2 separate regions of the Homo sapiens genome follow, and region 2 is linked to region 1. The links come from fine-mapping of genetic effects on gene expression. A gene starts in region 1. The other region holds a variant in brackets. All regions are shown on one strand. Distances are from middle to middle. Region 1 holds the start of PRDM8-AS1 (PRDM8 antisense RNA 1). Region 2 has its middle 25 kb from the start of PRDM8-AS1.

Evidence for each region. PIP is the estimated chance that this variant, and not a neighbour inherited with it, causes the effect.
Region 2: its variant is fine-mapped to the expression of PRDM8-AS1 in ovary (GTEx, PIP 0.92).

Annotation. Positions count from the first base shown.
Region 1 is chr4:80,192,446-80,201,642 of GRCh38, forward strand. PRDM8-AS1 (PRDM8 antisense RNA 1) reads right to left here and starts at 4,899. Exons shown (of 6, transcript NR_183912.1): 1 at 4,683-4,899; 2 at 4,382-4,543. It overlaps PRDM8 (PR/SET domain 8), which reads left to right and starts at 5,058. Exons shown (of 4, transcript NM_001099403.2): 1 at 5,058-5,318; 2 at 7,634-7,854; 3 at 8,845-9,076. The coding sequence starts at 7,636. RefSeq lists enhancers at 3,668-4,285, 4,286-4,901, 8,379-9,197.
Region 2 is chr4:80,167,736-80,176,932 of GRCh38, forward strand. No RefSeq gene overlaps it. Among named protein-coding and RNA genes, the nearest start is that of PRDM8-AS1, 25 kb to the right of the region's middle. The variant C/T (reference allele first, on the strand shown) is at 4,102.

The sequences.
Region 1 (9,197 bases):
AAAATTTCATTTGAGACTGCTGGACACCAATTTGAGACTGCTAGACATCCCCTGATCTGCAGTCTGCCTAAAAATCCTGACCCAGAGGGTAAGGAGGTTCAGAGTGACTGATGGAGAACTGGCTACAACCAGTCAACCCCCTTCACACTGAGATGCGTTCAAAGGGTGTGGTGTCTGAGTCTAGGAAGGACTTTGGAACCTACAGATTTGACAAAAATCCAAGCCTTTTCTTGCCAGATCTTTACACACTCATCTGGGGAAGAGTATAACATTTGGGAGAACCCAGGGGGTTGAAATAGTGGATATTGGATTTGGTTCAGAGGTCACACTCACACAGATGAGTATGGGGCACTGATTTCATATCTGTTGGTAGTTGTGCACAATGTCACTTCGGTTTGCTAGCCCTTCTAAAAGTCATACTCAGAGGCCATTAAGCCAGTTCACTACAACCCAGATCCAGGAGAGGAAGATAATAACATACAGCTTTCAAAGACTATCCCATTCTCAGCTGAACTCCAACACAAGTGTAAGTAAAACTTGGGAATGGCTAAGAGAGAAAGTTTTAAACTTGAGAAAGGTAGATTATCATTGTAATGATAATGGTGGTAGTAGTAGCTGCAGGAGCAGCAGGATTAAAAGCAGGATCATTTACGAGGAAAAGCCCAAGAGAGAAAAGTATGAGTCAGAAGTAATGATCCCTACAGTTGGGAGCCTGAAGTCCTTCCTCACAGGCTACAAAATTACCCAACCCTGAGTCTCTGGCTTTCCCAGGGCCAGCCTGGAAAACATTTGCTCATGTAATACCCAGTGAGCCAACTACAATACTTAGGGTGAGGAACAGACCTAAACTGAGTTTGCAATGTATACTTATAAAAAACGAGTAGCCCTTCCCACACCCCACCCCCTCACATCATCCTTTACCCAACTCAGCAAGCATGGCTCTTCTCGACTCACCAAAATGTAAAACAAACAAACAAACCCCTCTGGGTCTTTTTAAAAACCCACCATGTATCTTTCTCTTGATAAAGGCAAAGTGGTAGAAAATGAGTTAACAACCCTCTGAACAACATTTTTGGCACAGGCCTGGTGTTTTTCTTAATTGACCAGCCCATCATTTCTGTTTCTCTTTCATGTACAAGTAGTCAGTAAAGTTTATCCCTTAAAAAGTTCCTTATTCTGAATGGTGAGGCTAGGTAATACAATACTCCTCCTTGAAGATCTATTCTCTTCCTCCCTCAACCCTCACAGCCCCTTCCAGAGACCTCCCTGTGGGAAATTAATAAGCTTAGGAAGGAGCTGCCACTGTCTGCTCCATTGGCATCCTCTTATCTTCCAGTGTGTGGGTTTTTTCCCCCCCTTTCACCATGAATTGCCATACTCTTTTGACAATCAAGCCTTTGCTGGCATAGTGCTTTGGCAATAGAGTTAGAGGTGGGTAAGCCAGGACCTAGAAAGATATAGAAAAAGAAAATCAGTGTGTTTTCATTCTCATGGGATAATAATCTTTACGTGAATTATTCTTGGAGATGTTACCTGCCTCTTATCACAGAAGTTGAAATATTTTGGGCTCCATTTTTGAACCCTGGGAAGAGAAAGAGTGTTCCCATTCTAATACTCCCTAAGAATTAAAATTCCCTTTCTTACCCTTTCTCCACCCTCTCACTTAGGTCATAAAAGCCACCTGGGGTGTCATTTATCAACCTCTCTCCAGCCCACTCTTCCAAAATAACACTACAGTTTCCTACATGTGTATTTTTGCCAGGACTCCAAAGAGCCTTGCTAAAGTGGAACAAGGTGAGCATACCCACTCTTCATTGTCATTCTTCTAATTACTTAATTGGAAATAAAATCCTAGGGAAGAGAGCTCCAAATATATGCATAAACCCATTGTTCCATATGAATTACATAAAACTATTGACTAGGTACACTTTTATAGTACTGTCTGAGGCTGAATAAATGCCTCAACCCTTCATTTAGTATCAGTGAATTCCAGTAAGTATTAATGCAGAGTGATTTCAAAGTAGTTTATGTACCATTTTAGCCCATAAATTTCTACAGAAATAAAAATAATTTGTAGATTTTCTTTATCCCCTATTAATTATTGTCATTTAGGACATTTATATTACCAAGCAAAATGTGTACCACTTAAATTACTAGAAAACTCTTCAAGTAAGAATTTCGACTTAATCTTACTTATATTGTTTTGTTATGTCAGTTATTTAACTCATAATAAAAAGGGTAGGTCAGATTCATAAAATGTGAGAAATTCTTATATTTAAGGATCTCTACCTGAAAGCAGTAGGAAAAAAATTAATTAGAGGGCAAAAAAGTGAAACTGAAATGAAGCATCTGTTGGCCAGATTCTCAATAAATTGCTCCCTTCTCAGATGTATAAAATTGTCGCTGTTTTCTAGCTTAAGACATAAAAAGGTCAAGCTGTTCCACCCTCAACTTAAGTACCAAAAACATTATTTTATACAAACTGGAGTCAAGGTTTTAGTACCTCAAAAGAAATATAGTTTAAATGGTCTCTGTATTTAATAAGAGAAAGGCCAGGCACAAGAAAAATGCCTTCCATTTAGAGTTTATTTTCTAAATGTCCACATTCTGGAGTAGAGGCTTACATATTTACAATATGTAAGATAATTTTTTAATGGTTTGCATGGACAGATGACTTTTCCTGAAAGATAAAATTCCAATTCTCTAAATAACAGCAAAAGAAAGCATTAAGGAGTGTTCTGTTAGACAGATTAATGAAATTATGTTCTTAAACACTGCTCCTCACACACCATATTGCATTTATCAGTCTAGTTTCTAAGGGACCACATGACTCTCTTATGGCTACTTTTCTTTCTTAACTTGAAGTTGTTTACACCCGTGCCTCTTCTGCTCTTTATTTTTCTTCTTTCTTCTACTCTGAATTAACTTAAGTTTCTGGCCACTATTCTTCAAACCTGAGGTTTATTTTCCAGATGTTTGAGACATTATTTTCACATTTCTAATGCTTCCACCCATTCTTTAAAGAAGTATTAGGGGACCATGTGTCCATACTTTGTGTGTGTGTGTGTGTGTGTGTTTGTGTGTGTGTAGAGAGAGAGAGAGACTGAGAAGTGAATCTAGTATTCAATGGAGCAATCAGTCAGAAGACAATTGGTAGCTCAGTATAGCTGCAGATTCTTACATACAGGCATGTGAGAGAGCCCTCATTGCACTGAGCCTTGGTCATTAGGAGCCAACCTTAGCCGAAGTAGATAAAATTGCACATAGCCAAAGTACATAAAACTGCACTTCAAGAAGCTTTCTTTGAAAAGTCAGTAGCTAACCTGAAAACTAAGGGATTCCCCATTTTCTCTGAATATATGGGGATTTTGCAGCCCTTCCTTCTGTGAATTTCAGCTTAATTCTAGGCAGCAATTCGGAATTTGCCTGGGGTACTAACCAGAAAAGAGAAGGAAATACACACACACACACACACACACACACAGAGAGAGAGAGAGAGAGAGAGAGAGAGAGAACAAGGAAGAACATGAACTTCATGGGAAAGTCCTTGCACTTGTTTCTCCTCAGCAAAATCCTCCCCTGGCCTCCTGGGACTGCAGTCACCAGGCTGTCAAAGCCTCAATACCCCACTGAGTTCCAGAGAAGGGTCTCAAAGCTGGGAGAGGATCAAACTAACATGGTAAGCTGCTCTTTGCCAACTCCCCAAATACATTATTTCAACACTAGGAAAAACAACAACGAGGCTGTCTCCTTACGTTGTGGTTCTGCCTCCTCCACTTTAGCTAGCTACACAATCCGATTTATCCTAATGCTGACAGATTGCCCACTTCAAAGTAGTGGTGGTGTGTGTGGGGCTGAAGGAGTTGAGAAACTGTCTATACCACTCAAAGGCCTTTCTTCCTTTAGGAGTAGAGAATTGAACTGTGAAAAAGAAGCCCGAGATTCCCCAGCGACGTGGTGTTGCAGCCCCGTTGAAGGAGTCAACTTGCAGGCTGTTAAAGACCTCAAGTCATTAGCATCAGCTGCTGCACTAAAGGGGCAAGTCAGCGCCTCTAAGTGGCTTAGCGCACAAACGAGGCTCCCGAGACGGCCTCGGCAACTCCATCCCCTCCTCCACCACCCGCTGGATGTGAAAAGCTTTCCGGAGCCCATCTTGGTAATCATTTTTATTTTTAATCACCCTTGCCCCCCAACCCCAAGACCTCAGAGTGCCAACAGTACCCATTATAGACTCCCTCTGGGGCTGCGCAGAACGCACCAAGCAGAGGGGGGGAAAAACCCCACGAAAACAAAAACAAACAAAAAAAAAACAGGAACTGTTTGAGTCCAGTAACCTGCGCTCTTCCCACCAACCTCCCACACCCCACCTCCGCCCACGTACCCGTGTCCTGGGACTAGGAGGTACCGTTATGTCCCCTTCCGAGGTCTGGTGACATTCTCACTCCAACCTCATCTCCCAAGCCACGGGAAGGCTGAGCCAAGTTCTCACCAAAGCGCATCCTTTCTGAATTTTGCAGGGGGAAGCTTGGTAGTGTTGGCGCTCCTGAAGAGAGACGACGCCCGTTTATCACCCCCAGGCAACTAGCTGCGCAAATCAGCGGTGGCTCCAGGGCTAGAGAATCCCTGGAGCTAACCGCACCCCTCTCCCTTTCACGGAACGCGGACTCCGGGGAAATACGCACGGGGTCCGCACGCGCTGGGTGTCCAGCTCTCTGTCACAGCTTCTCCAAGTGCCTAGTGAAACGGGGAAAGGCCCTCTCCAATCATTTTGGTACCTTCCTTTCCAATCCTGAAACGATTTTCCCCTCCTAGCAGTCCCAGAGGGCCCGAGCTTTAGGAGGAGGCGGGCCGGGACGCTCTCTGAGAGGCGTTGCCACCCGGGGTAGGCGCTCAGGATCTGCGGGGCGCGGGCAGGCCGGGGGAAAAAGCTGCGAGGCAGGCGGCGCCGGAGGGAGCGCCTGGCCCAGCAAAGAGTTAAAGGGAGGGGACGTGGGCTGTCACGCGTCATTGGGCAGATTATGTGCAGCAAACAAAAAGTGTGTGTCTGCGTGCCAGTCAGTCACTGCATCGGGTCCATCTGTACAACTCTCTCCGTTTCTCCGTCTCTCTCCCTCCCTCCCTCCCTCCACCCCCCCAATCTTTTTCTCCCCATCTCTCCATCTCTCTCTTATCTCTTCAGGAAGAGCCTAAAAGGCGGCAACACCAACACCTCTTGACATGGAAATACACTGATACAATAGGCAAAAGGAAACACTCGATTGCATCTTCCCGGTTCCAGGTGGCCTTATTTGGGAGATTCTATACTGACCTTATTCCTGGTAAGTCTATTTGCATTGATGTGGGAGGGGGATGGGAGGAAGACAGTTTGGTGGAAAGAGTAGAACATTTTGTCTTCCGTCTCCTTATTATCCAGAAGAGAGAGAAAAATAATTCTTGAGGGGCTGTCTACTGCCAGTAATATTGTACAAAAGGAGGAGCGGGTGGTGAGCACTTTGCCGGAGAAGCCGGAGACTGGGGAGCGCGCGGCCGCCAGACAATGCCTGCCTAGAGGGACGGGCCAGTGGCGGGCAGCAGCGACCGGCTTTCAGAAAGCCCCGCCGGCTCTGGGGTATATTCCCAGGGCAGGCGGATAAGAACCTGGGCCTAGAGCGGGGCACGGAGCTGTGAAACGTTGCGTGGCAAAGGCGACCGCACGCGGGCGGGCGCTCCTAGGCTCTTGCCCAGCGGTTATTGTGATGGGCTTGAGGCTCGTGGCGCCTGGCGCTGCGACTCCGACCGCTATTAGCGCGGCGTAGTGAGGACCTTTTTGCCGTATTGTTAGGTAGAACTGCATTTTAATGACTGTGTCCCTGCTGTTGCCCGAAGTGACGGGGCGACCTCCCGGCACAATGAAATGCTTGTGTGAAAGAGATTTTTAAAAGGAAGAGAGAAATTGGGGAATAAAACGCTGAATTGAAGGAAATTGAAAAGAGGAGAATAGGATTCCGTTGAAAAGGAGATAAGAGGTTATGGGGTTTTTAAAATGTATTTTAATTTGAAATGAAAAAATCAGGATGTCTACCTTGTATGGGGTAAAAATGACCAGGGATAGATGATGCAGAATAAAAAAGTTTCTACTTTATGGATATTTTCCCTTATTTCTGCTGTCTGGGAGATACAGCCCAACACTTGACATTTGGGGGATGCAAGAGGATGAATGGAAAATGAGGCTAACCAAAGTTTTAGGCTATGTTAGCTGGAATGGGGGGAAAAAAGCACACCTTGTAATCACACGTGTAAGGTTAACTGGTTAATATAAATTAAAATAAAAATAGATGTCACTGACATTATTCCATAATGAACAGCTTTGCAGGAAAAGAATTAGATCTACTCTTTCCTGCTACTTTAATTATATAAAACATACATAAATAATTGCCAACAGTGACATTATTAGGGAACAACAAACTTGGAGGAATATTTTGATTAGTCTGAAATACTAAGCAATGCAGCTAGTTCAAAGCTAGTTTAAAAATTTAAATACCTGGGTTTTTTTGGGTTTTTTTTTTTTTGTTTTTTTTTTTTTTTTTTTTTTTTAGTGATAAGTCTTGTATGGGGTGTCCAGAGGAAGGAAAATGTCCCTTTATGACACCTTAATAAAGGGCATTGGGGCATTACTTTCTAAATTGCTGCGGATTAAACAGCTGGGGAGCCCACTGAGGAGTGCTCAAGCAGGGCTGCCCCCTCTTGCCCAAAAAGGGTCATATGGGGTAGGGGGAGTGAAAATTTACCAGTCATTACACACAGTATTTCAGACTGGGGACACTTTAGGCCTGTCCTGTACCTGCTCACTTCATGAGCCACATGTGACTCAATCCACCCCCTTGTATAACAAGGTAACCGGGATTCACTCTCATCCATAAATAAGCACGTCCAGAAAAAAAAATTACCTCTGCTTGCTGCTTTTAATTAAAGCCTCAGAGGAACAGTGTTGGATTATGGTAATGAGCAGACATACGTCCCTTCTTGTAGGCTGCAGAGAAAGGTTAGCTGACACAGAATTAGTGGCCCTGACATTCCACTTGAAATCCATTCGCCATGCTCCGCTGTCTCCGCCTGCTCACTAACGCTGTTCCCCTCCTTGGAAGAAAAGAAAAAAATCAGCTCCCGGGCACCCAGTTCAATACATAGGCAGACAGGCACTTTCCCCCAAGGGTTAGAAGTTTCTTTCAGTAAGGGAAGTCTATAGGCTGGTTTAAAAAATTATATATATGTATATATATATATATGTGTGTGTGTGTGTGTGTGTGTGTGTGTACATATATATATAATTCTGCCTGGAACTTCACCTCTAAAACCTACCCAATCCAACATCAAGGTAATGCAAAAATTATCTAGTCTTTCCTAGCCCTTTCTTTTCTTTCTCCCAAGCAGTCAGCTCCAGATCTCCCACTATTCTAATTATTTTAACAAGTATCCCTTAGTTTTCATCTTTAAAATATGCCATGTTTATCTGCTTTAATTTTGAAATAAGAGCTATGCAAAAATCAGGCATGTGCAAGGAAAATCTACCTAGTATTTGGACAGTTCTGCTTGGGTTAATGGCGTTAAAAGCAGTAACATAACTCACTTTCTTGTGCTGTGTGTCTATCTCCAGTGATGGAGGATACTGGCATCCAGCGAGGCATCTGGGATGGAGATGCCAAGGCTGTCCAACAATGTCTGACAGATATTTTTACCAGCGTTTACACCACCTGCGACATCCCTGAGAATGCTATATTTGGTCCCTGTGTCCTGAGCCATACTTCCCTATATGACAGCATAGCTTTCATAGCTCTCAAGTCTACTGACAAGAGAACAGTACCGTATATCTTTCGGGTAAGTCTCCACTGTAGCTGTGTAGGTGTATGAGGGTAATGTCCTGTTGGAAATGGACTAAAAATAATTATAATGACAAGTGGAGATAGGTTTTGCCTGTGGAAAAATGCAATAATGCAAGCAATCCCATTTCACACATCAAAAATTAGAAAAGGAAAATTAAACTCAAATTATTGTCAACTGATTTTTTGGAATAAATGACAAAATTTGATTTGGAATGTTAGAAATATCTAAATCAGTGCTTCAGTTCTGGATTATCCTGGTGATGAACACGACTTCCTAAACTCTGGGAGATTTCACTGGGGTGGAGGCTATTTGCATACTAACTAGTTTCTGCAAGTTCTTTGACAAGTATTGGGTACATCTGCCTTCCATTTGAGGAGGCTTCTTCATCCCCTAAAGATTAGTTTCTTTGGTAATATTAGCTAGTGCCCAGAGTTTGTATTTAAATAAAAATGTTTATGGTTTTGACAGTAAAGCATCATCAAATCCATATGTCTGAATTGGAAGATTCAGACCTCTCATTTCCTATTCTTCTTTACAAAGAAAATCTATTAATTGTTCTAGCCAAGATTAGGAACATGATTGCCATAGCATAATTTCTAAGATCTAAGCTTGCTTTATTTCTGAAACAAACAAAATTCTCCATACCTTTGTAATGTGGAATAACTTAGAAGTAAACTCTCAAGGGGTTAACACTAAATTATAAGAAGAAATTTCCTCATTTAGTATTCAACCAATATATAAAAACGGTGACTTAAATAAACTATATGATTGATGCAGTGTTTCAAAGAATGGTTATCTTGCCTAATGGTTACAAACATGAGGACAGGTCCCAGCTTGGGCCAAACTTTTGGAAGCGTGGTCTCAGACAATTTTTGGAAAAGACTAACATAGAAGAAATGGTCTTGATTCTTCTGATTTCATTCCCTCATGAGGGTCCCTCTCCCCCTCTCCTTCTTGTCTTCTTTCATTTATTTCAAACCGCAGGTAGACACCTCAGCAGCAAATGGTTCCTCAGAAGGTCTCATGTGGCTGCGGTTGGTCCAATCGGCCAGAGATAAGGAAGAGCAGAACCTTGAAGCCTACATAAAAAACGGACAGCTGTTCTACCGCTCTCTCCGCAGGATTGCCAAAGACGAGGAGTTACTAGTTTGGTACGGGAAAGAACTGACTGAGTTACTCTTGCTCTGCCCCTCTAGATCCCACAACAAAATGAATGGTAGGTTGGCTCGCGACCGGCGTGTGGGCCCTTAACTAGCGGGGGAGAGACGCAGGGAGCGGCAGGGGCTCACCCGGCGCGTTGGCGCGCCTTTCTTCCCTTCGGGTGTCTCATAGGAAGA
Region 2 (9,197 bases), 25 kb before region 1:
ACAAAATATTATCTCACCTGCAATGTGTGCAGTTGTGATAAAATATACGTGCATAAAATTTACCATTTTAACACTTTTCCTTAAGTGTACAGCTCAGTGGCATTAACTACATTCACACTGTTGTGCAACCTTCACCACTATCCATCTCCAGAACTTTTTCGTTGTTTCAAACAGAAACTCTGTACCCACTAAATCATAACTCTCCTTTCCTCCTCACCCCACTGTTCTACTTTTGGCCTCTATGAATTTTACTAATCTAAATACTTCATACAAGTAGAATTATAAAATATTTGTCAGTTTGTACCTAGCTTATTTTCCTTAGTATAATGTTTTCAAGGTTCATTCTTGTTGTAGTGTGTGGCGGTATATCATTAGGTTTTATGGGTAAATATTATTCCATTGTATACATATAAGATATTCTGTTTATTCATTCATCAGTTGATGGATATTTGGGTTGTTTCCACTTTTTAGTTATGAATAGTGATCCTATGAGCATGGGCATACAAGTTTTTGTGCGAACATATCTTTTAAACTCCCTTGAATATGTTATCAAAGGATAGAATTTCTGGATCATATGATAACTTAACCTTCTGAAGAACTGTCACATCCTTGGCAACACTTGTTATTATCTGTCCTTTTTATTATAACCAATCTAGTATGTGTGAAATGATACCTCATTGTTGTTTTGATTTAAATTTCCCTCATTACTAATAATATTGAGCATCTTTTCAAGTGCCTATTAGTGATTTTTAAATCTTCTTTAGAGAAATGTCTATTTAAATCCTTTGCTCTTTCTTTAATTGCATCACTTTTTTATTATTGAGTAGCAAGGGCTCTTTCTATACTGTAGCTGTAAGACTCTTATCAAATATATGATTTGCAAGTTCTCAATGTTTTTGTTGCTTTTAATTTGAATATCATATTATAGAATTCTTTAGAAAATCCAAAATCATGAAGATTTTACCTCTATGTTTTCTTCTAAGAACATTCAGTTTTTAGGACTTCGATCCATTTTGAGTTAATTTTTGTGTATGGTATGAGGTAAGGGTTTAGCTTCATTCTTTTGCCTGTGGCTATCCAATTGTCCCAGCACAATTTGTGGGGATTATTCTTTCCCCATTAATGTTTTAGGACCCTGTGCACAAAATGAGTTGGCCATGGAGATATGGGTTTAGTTCTAGATTCTCAATTCTGTGCATTGTGTTATGGACTGAATTGTGTTTCCTGCCCCCCATATACATGTATTGAAGCCCTAACCCATCTGTATTTGGAGATACAGCCTTTAAGAAGGTAATGAAGATTAAATGAGGTCATAAAAGTAGGACCTGAACCCAATAGGACGGGTATCCTTAGAACAAGAGAAAGAAACACCACAAGTGCATGCTCACATAGGAGAAGACAGTGAAAAGGCAGCCATCTGCAACTCAGGAAGAAAGTTCATACCAGAAACCATTCCTGATGACACCTTGATCTTGGACTTTCAGCCTCAAGACCTGTGAGAGAATACATTTCTGTTGCTTAAGCCATCCAGTCTGTGATATTCTGCTATGGCACCTAAGCAAATAAATAAAAATGTTTGTCTTGTGCCAGTATCACTCTGTTATTATTACAATTGCTTTGTAGTAGGTTTTGAAACCAAGACATATAAGCTCTCCTTATTTATTATTTTCAGGTTTGTTTTGGTATTCTGAGTTCCTTGCAATTTCGCATTAAGTTTAGAGTCAGCCATCAATGTCAGCAAAGTCAGCTGGGTTTCCAATAAAAATTATGTTGAATCTGTAGATCAACATATTGCCATTTTAACAATATTAAGTCTTACTATCCATGACCATGGTATGTTTTTTCACTTATTTAATCTTCTGTAATTTCTTTTAACAATATTTTGTAGTATTCAGGGTATAAATTTTGCGTTTATTTTGTTAAATTTGCTCCTGTGGGTATTTTATTCTTTCTGATGCTAATATGAATGAAATTGTTTACTTAACTTATTTTCATATTGTTTATTGTAAGTGTATAGACATACAAATTATTCTTGCAGAGTGATTTTGTATCCTGCAAAACTGTTTAACTTAGTTATTAGTATAGCCACGCCAGCTTTCTTGTGGTTGTTGTTTGCTTGAATTTTTTTTTTTTTTTTTAGATAGGATCTCACTCAGTCACACAGTTTGGAGTGCAGTGGCACCATCTCAACTCACTGCAACCTCCACCTCCCAGGTTCAAGTGATTCTCATGCCCCAGCTCCCTAAATAGCTGAGACTGCAGGTGTGTGCCACGATGCCTGGCTAATTTTTGTACTTTTAGTACAGATGGGATTTCACCAAGTTGGTCAAGCTGGTGTCAAATTCCTGGCCTCAAGTGATCTGCCCACCTCAGCCTCCAAAGTGCTGGAATTACAGGCATGAGCCACTGCACCTGGTCTTTGATATTTTTAAATCCTTTTATTTTCAATCTATTTATGTCTTTGAATATAAAGTTTATCCTGAAGACAACATATAGTTAAAGCATGTTTTTAAATCAAGTCTGATAATCTCTGCTTTTTGATTTAATTGTTTAATTTACCCTGATAAGAAGTTTCTGTTGCATGTATTTCATCCAGTATACAATTTATACTTTTCCATTCTTTTGCATGCTCATAATTTGTTGTTAGAAACTGGACATTTTAGATAATATATCTTAGTAACTCTGGAAACTGGTACCCCGCCCCCCTCTAGGATTGCGATTATTATTTTCTTGTTTATTTGTTTAGTGAGTGCTGAGTTATTTTAGTTGAAGTCTATTCCCTGGCTTCCATTCCCTCACTTTTCAACATACACATCATGGTAAGCCTCTGATGCTCTCTGATCAGTGAGGCACAGTTCTGGGTATATCTAACAATTATCCTGGGATAGTAGTGGTACTGGTAAGATTCTCTCCCACCCTTTCGCTGATTACACCTAGCTGTTAAACTCTACTAATTTCTGGCCTATTGCTTAATTGTTTCCAACAGTGCCCTGGAACATAATTTTTTCTTTACAAATAAATCCAATTGGCCGGGCATGGTGGCTCATGCCTGTAATCCCAGCACTTTGGGAGGCCAAGGCGGGAGGATCATCTGAGGTCAGGAGTTTGGGACGAGCCTGGCCAACACGGTGAAACCCCGTCTCTACTAAAAATACAAAAATTAGCTGGGCATGGTGGCAGGTGCCTGTAATCCCAGCTACTCAGGAGGCTGAGGCAGGAGAATCGCTTGAACCCATGAGGCAGAGGTTGCAGTGAGCTGAGATTGTGCCATTGCACTCCAGCCTGGGAGACACAGTGAGACTCTGTCTCAAAAAAAAAAAAAAAAAAAAGATATACAAATAAATCTAATAATATTGTGACACTTTATATGGGAAAGTTTCTGAGATCAGTGTTTGCTATTTGTATTAACTCCAAGAGAGCTCCTGTCAGCTATCTTATTTCCCAGTTCTCTCTTACAAACTAGCTGGCCTACAGTCTAGGCTATATCTTCATTTGGTCCCAAAATTTCCTCTCAATTGCTTTTCACCACAACTTCTACTGTTCTTGAGAGTGCCCTTAAGTTTAAAATTATCTACACTTTGTTTGGAATAAAGTAAGATCCCTTGGGAAGAGATAAAGAGTTGCATGCTTTATGGCCTGATTCTCTCCCTAGGCAAAATTTCTGAGCTAGAGCACGGAGTTGGGGGTGGAAACAATGACAAGCTTCTCTCTGAGTAATACCCTGGCTCTAATTGCTGAATGCTTGGTGGATGGGGTGAGAGAGGAGTTTGCAGGTCTTTCAGCTTGCCACTCATGGTGTGGAAACTTTACTTCAAAGGCCAAGGAAAAGGCTCCCAAGGCTCCAGTATTCCTGTTAACAGCCCAATTGGTTCATCTTACCCACTGCCCAGAAAAGCCAATTCCCTGAAAATAGCAGATACTGCAGCAAAGAAAGAGTTTAAGTATTGAAAGCTCGGAGGCTAAGGATAATTTGGCAGGCAGGGGGTTAGGGACTAGGTCCTGCTGATTGGTTCAGGATGAAATCATAGGTGTATCCAAAATGTTCTTCATGTGCTGAGTCAGTTTCAGGGTAGGGGGTCACAGGATTGGTTAAGTCAGTTC[C/T]CTGGTATGAGTCACAGATCCAGGTGGCATCAACTGGTCAGCCAAAGTGCAAAAGTCTGAAAAATACCTCAAAGACCAATATTGGGTTTTGACAATACCGTTGGTATCTATAAGAGCAATTAAAGAACTTACAAATCTTGTCATCTTCGGAACTGTGGCTGGTTATCATTTAACTACATCTACATCTTACCAGAATTCATTCCCCACTCATAATCCTAAGCTTTTGGCCTTTCATTAGTCCTACAAAGGTGGTTTCAGTCCCCAGAGGGGGTCAGTTTTTGGGGGAGACTATTATCCTTTATTTAAAGTTAAACTATAAGCTAAATTCCTTCCACAATTAGCTTCGCCTACACCCAGGAATGAGCAAACACAGTTAGCTTGTTAAGTTAGAAGTATGGCAGTGTCAGCTAGGTTACATTTCTCTCACTGTCATAATTTTTGCAAAGGTAGTTTCATTCTCAATGCACCACACCCAAGGTAGAACTTCCTTTTTACAAGAAAGTGTTGGGTGGGAGAAGGAAGCTTCCTCCTCCCAGTTGTATTCACCTAAGACTTAGCCTTAGCAACAGACAGCTACGGGCAGGACCAAAAAAGCTCAAGTTATGTCCTATTGCAATGAAAGCCCTGCAGCTGACACCTAAGGAATATAAAGAGTCATATTCTTGGCTGCAGCGTCTGGAGTAGAGTCTCTGCCTCACTGAGCTGGGAGGGGCAAGGAAAGTAGTAGTTTCAGTTCAAATGTCACAGACTCACCTCTCTTGACAGATATTCATAATTTCCTCTAATAGGTATTTCTTTATTTACCATTTGCCCTTAGGACCATTTCCAGAGAATTTAAGTGGTTGTTTCTTTACACACAATTTTCACCAGTTTCACTGAGGAGTGGCTCAGCAGAGTTTCCCACACTGCCATTCTAGAAGTCAATCTATTTCACTTGTATTTATTGTTCAGCTATATATGTTACTTACAAGACTCTTCTTTGCTTTCCACTCCTAATTTTCTGTTTTCCTATAGCTAACTCTGTCTCTCTCCTTTGAAACACTGACTTCCAACTTTATATCAGTCCTCTCAAGTTTTCAAACTCTTAGTTTCTATGAGATTTAGAAATCGGGCTTTTGTTTGTGCTGATGTTTACAGTGAATATTCAAGACTCTGATATTGGCTATAATTTTTTTTTAGAGTTAAAGTCTTCCTTTGTTGCTCAGGCTGGATTGCAGTGGCACAATTTTAACTTACTGTGGCCTTGAACTCCCAGGCTCATGCAATTCTCCCACCTCAGCTTCCTCAGTAGCTGGGACTACAGGAACGTGCCACCACAATCAGATAATTTGATTTATTTATTTATTGCAGAGACAGAATATTGCTATGTTGCCCAACCTGATCCTGAGCTCTTGGTCGCAAGTTATCCTCCCAGCTCAGTCTCCTAAAGCACTGAGATTGCAGGCATGAGCCATGACAACCGGCCTTGAGTATAATTTTAATCTAAGGCTTCAGGAAAGAGAGCATGCTTCTCCACCACTGTCCTCTTCCATTTTTTTGTCTGTGGGTTAGTTCAGGTTCAGGAGGAAGAGACAGGGATGGCAAAGTTGGAAAGAGAAAATGTTACTTCATTCTAAAATCTACACAGTTTGTGAATTCAAGGGAAGCCATTAGTAGGAGTTCCTATTGCTGTGCAGCTGATTTGTTTTGAGGTAGTCACCCTTTGTTGAAGCCTGGCTGGCTTCCTTGAAAACAATCAGCAAGTGACTAACCAGGCATAGTAAGACTGGTGCTGACACAGGAAACCACCAAATGATGAGAGACCTGGGGATGCCCAAAGGAAGTCAATAAAAGCATACTCTCAAATTCTTCCAGATTTTGGCTTGCAAAGCCTCCCAAGACTTCTGGAAATCCTTCCTAAATGCTACTAGGAATGTTCCAGCCAAAGGGCTCTGAGAAATGATTCTTTAAAATCTTGGATGCTTAAGTTTACAAAACCCAGTAAGTTTTTACTTCCAGTTGAAACTGTGCATGAAAAAGATGTTTTCAGAAAGAGTTCTCAGATAATTCTATTTGTGAATAATAGTAGTAATGTAATGGTTATTCTCCATTTGTCTCTCCAAAATCCATTCTCTGTCCTCTCCTGGCTCTATATTGCCAGAGGCTGACTCATGCAGATTCGTTAGCATGCTCCAGAACCTTGCTGGTTAGTTAGCTTCCGGTTGAGTTAGGCCATTGGAAGGCATTAACATGAAATTGGAGCATGTGAGAAAAGAAAAGATGAGTTATTTCTTCCCTGTCCTCTCCTTGCTACACCATTGTCTCTGTGTCAGTAGCTGTTTCTGTAGGTCTCACACTGGGCCCTTCTTCCAAGGTTCTGGTCCTTAGCAGACTGTAGAAACACTAATTCCTCTCCTAAAATCTTCTTGTTATGCTGGTTTCTGTGTCCCTCACTCTCTCGTTTGTTCTCATCACCTGGTCCACATCTTTGTAGCACTCCCTTACCTGAGGATGGGGCAATTATTTCCAAGACCACCAGTGGATGGCTAAAATCACAGATAATACCAAATGCTGTATATACTATGTTTTCTCTGATACATACATACCTCTGAAAATAATTGATTTATAAATTAGACACTGCAAGAGATGAACAATAAGATAAAATAGAACACATATAACAATATACTGTGCACTCCCCTATATATACACATGTACATATATTATATATATACATATAAAGGGGAATTTGTTAAGTATTAACTTACACAATCACAAGGTGTCACAATAGGCTGTCTGCAAGCTGAGGAGCCAGGAGAGCTAGTCCAAGTCCCAAAACTGAAGAATTTTGAGTCTGATGATAGAGGGCAGGAACCATCCAGCATGGGAGAAAGATGTAGGCTGGGAGGCTGGGCCAGTCTCTCCTTTTCACATTTTTCTGCTTCCTTTATATTTGCTGGCAGCTGATTAGATTGTGCCCACCAGATTAAGGGTGGATCTGCTTTCCCCAGCCCACTGACTCAAATGTTAATCTCTACTGGCAACACCCTCACAGACACACCCAGGATCAATACTTTGTATCCTTCAATCCAGTCAAGTTGACACTCAGTATTAACTATCACAACTCCACCCCTTGTCAACTTGAACCCATATATATCTCCTGAGATCATACATAATCTTCAAATAAAGACAATAATAAGGTCATAATTACACTTAAAATAATACAACTATCTTTCGTACAACCGGAAATGCACCAATACCCCCATCCAAATACTATTACATAAAGTTAACAATACTTAAATGCTGATATGAAGTCAATTAATCTTATGTCACATGATAAAGGAAAAGGAAATAAAATGAGGATAATTTCTCAGTACAAGTGTATACATGCACAAACATGTTTTTAACAAAAGAAGGAGGAAATACTCATGACAGTTACAGTCCTCATTTCTGCAGCTGGTCAAGTGGTCATAGCTGGTATTTATGACTACCTTCTCCTACTGCCCATTCTGTATTCCCTTTACCTTCAGCAAGCACCTCAGCAGGTCATGTTTTTTTTCCTGGTGGAGTGACCCAAACCTTCCTTCCTGAGGGGTCTGGACCATTTGTAGTTCTGCCTGGATTGGGCTGTTGTACTTTCCCATTGACCTTAATCACAGGGCATGGTAATACTAAGAGACACCCTAATGGATCACCTGTATTCCGTGCATATTCTTTCCTTACCTCCGTTGTGGAGTAGTAGACTGATTTCATCTTGATAGTCTGGATCAATAACCCCAGCCAACACTATAACTCCCTTCTTAGTCTGTTGACTTAAAGGTAAGAGGACCCCAAAGTGTTCAGATGGAAATCTTAACTTCTAGTTTAATGGAATTGTTGTTGTGTCTCCTGGTGGCAGCGTTCCTCCCTCTGGAACTAAGACCTTTAGGTCTGCAGAACGTGAGGTTATGGGAACAGGAAGCAAAACTTTTGCTAGTGGATAACTAGAGGTGATGGTGAGTGGTGCCACTTCCACTTCCAGCTCTTGATTCCTGGACCTGTGAATCCTGGCTATGGGGGTAACAGAACCATATATTGGACACTGATTCAGAGCATACATGGCCTTCTAGAGAACTTTGCCCTAGCCCTGCAAAGTATTGTCACCTAGTTGGCATTGTAATTGTGACTTCAAAAGGCCATTCTAATATTCTATCAATCCAGCTGCTTCAGGATGTTGAGTAGCATGCTAAGTCCAGTGAATTCCATGAGCATGAGCCCACTGTCACACTTCTTTAGCTGTAAAGTGAGTGCCTTGGTCAGAGGCAATGCTGTGTGGCATATTGTGATGGTGGATAAGGCATTCAGTTAGTCCACAGATGGTAGTCTTGGCAGAAGCATTGCATGCAGTATAGGCAAACCCATATCCAGACTAAGTGTCTATTCCAGTGAGGACAAACCTCTGCTCTTTCTATGATGGAAGAGGTACAATATAATCAACCTGCCACCAGGTAGCTGGCTGATCACCCTGAGGAATGGAGCCATATTGAGAGCTCAGTGTTGGTCTCTGCTGCTGGTCAATTGGGCACTCAGCAGTGGCCACAGCCAGGTCAGCCTTGGTGAGTGGAAGTCCATGTTGCTGAGCCCATGTGTAACCTCCATCCCTGCCACCATGGAAACTTTCTTCATGGGCCCGTTGGGGCGATGAAAGGGGTGGCTGGGGAAAAAGGCTGAATGGTGTCCACAGAACAGGTAATCCTATCCACTTGGTTATTAAAATCTTCCTCTGCTGGAGTCACTCATTGCTGAGCACTCACATGGGATACAAATATCTTCATGGTTTTTGACCACTCAGAGAGGTCCTTCCATGTACCTCTTCCCCAAATTTCTTTGTCACCAGTTTTCCAATACGCTTCTTGCAAGTCCCTGACCATCCAGCCAAACCATTGGCTACAGCCCATGAATCAGTATATAATGGCACATCTGGCCATTTCTCCTTTCATGCAAAGTGCACAGCCAGGTGGCCTGCTCAAAGTTCTGCCCACTGGGAAGATTTTCCTTCACCCGCTGTCCTTCAGGGATGTCCTAGAAAGGGGCCGTAGTGCTGCAGCTGTCCACTTTCAGGTGGTGCCTGCATATCGTGC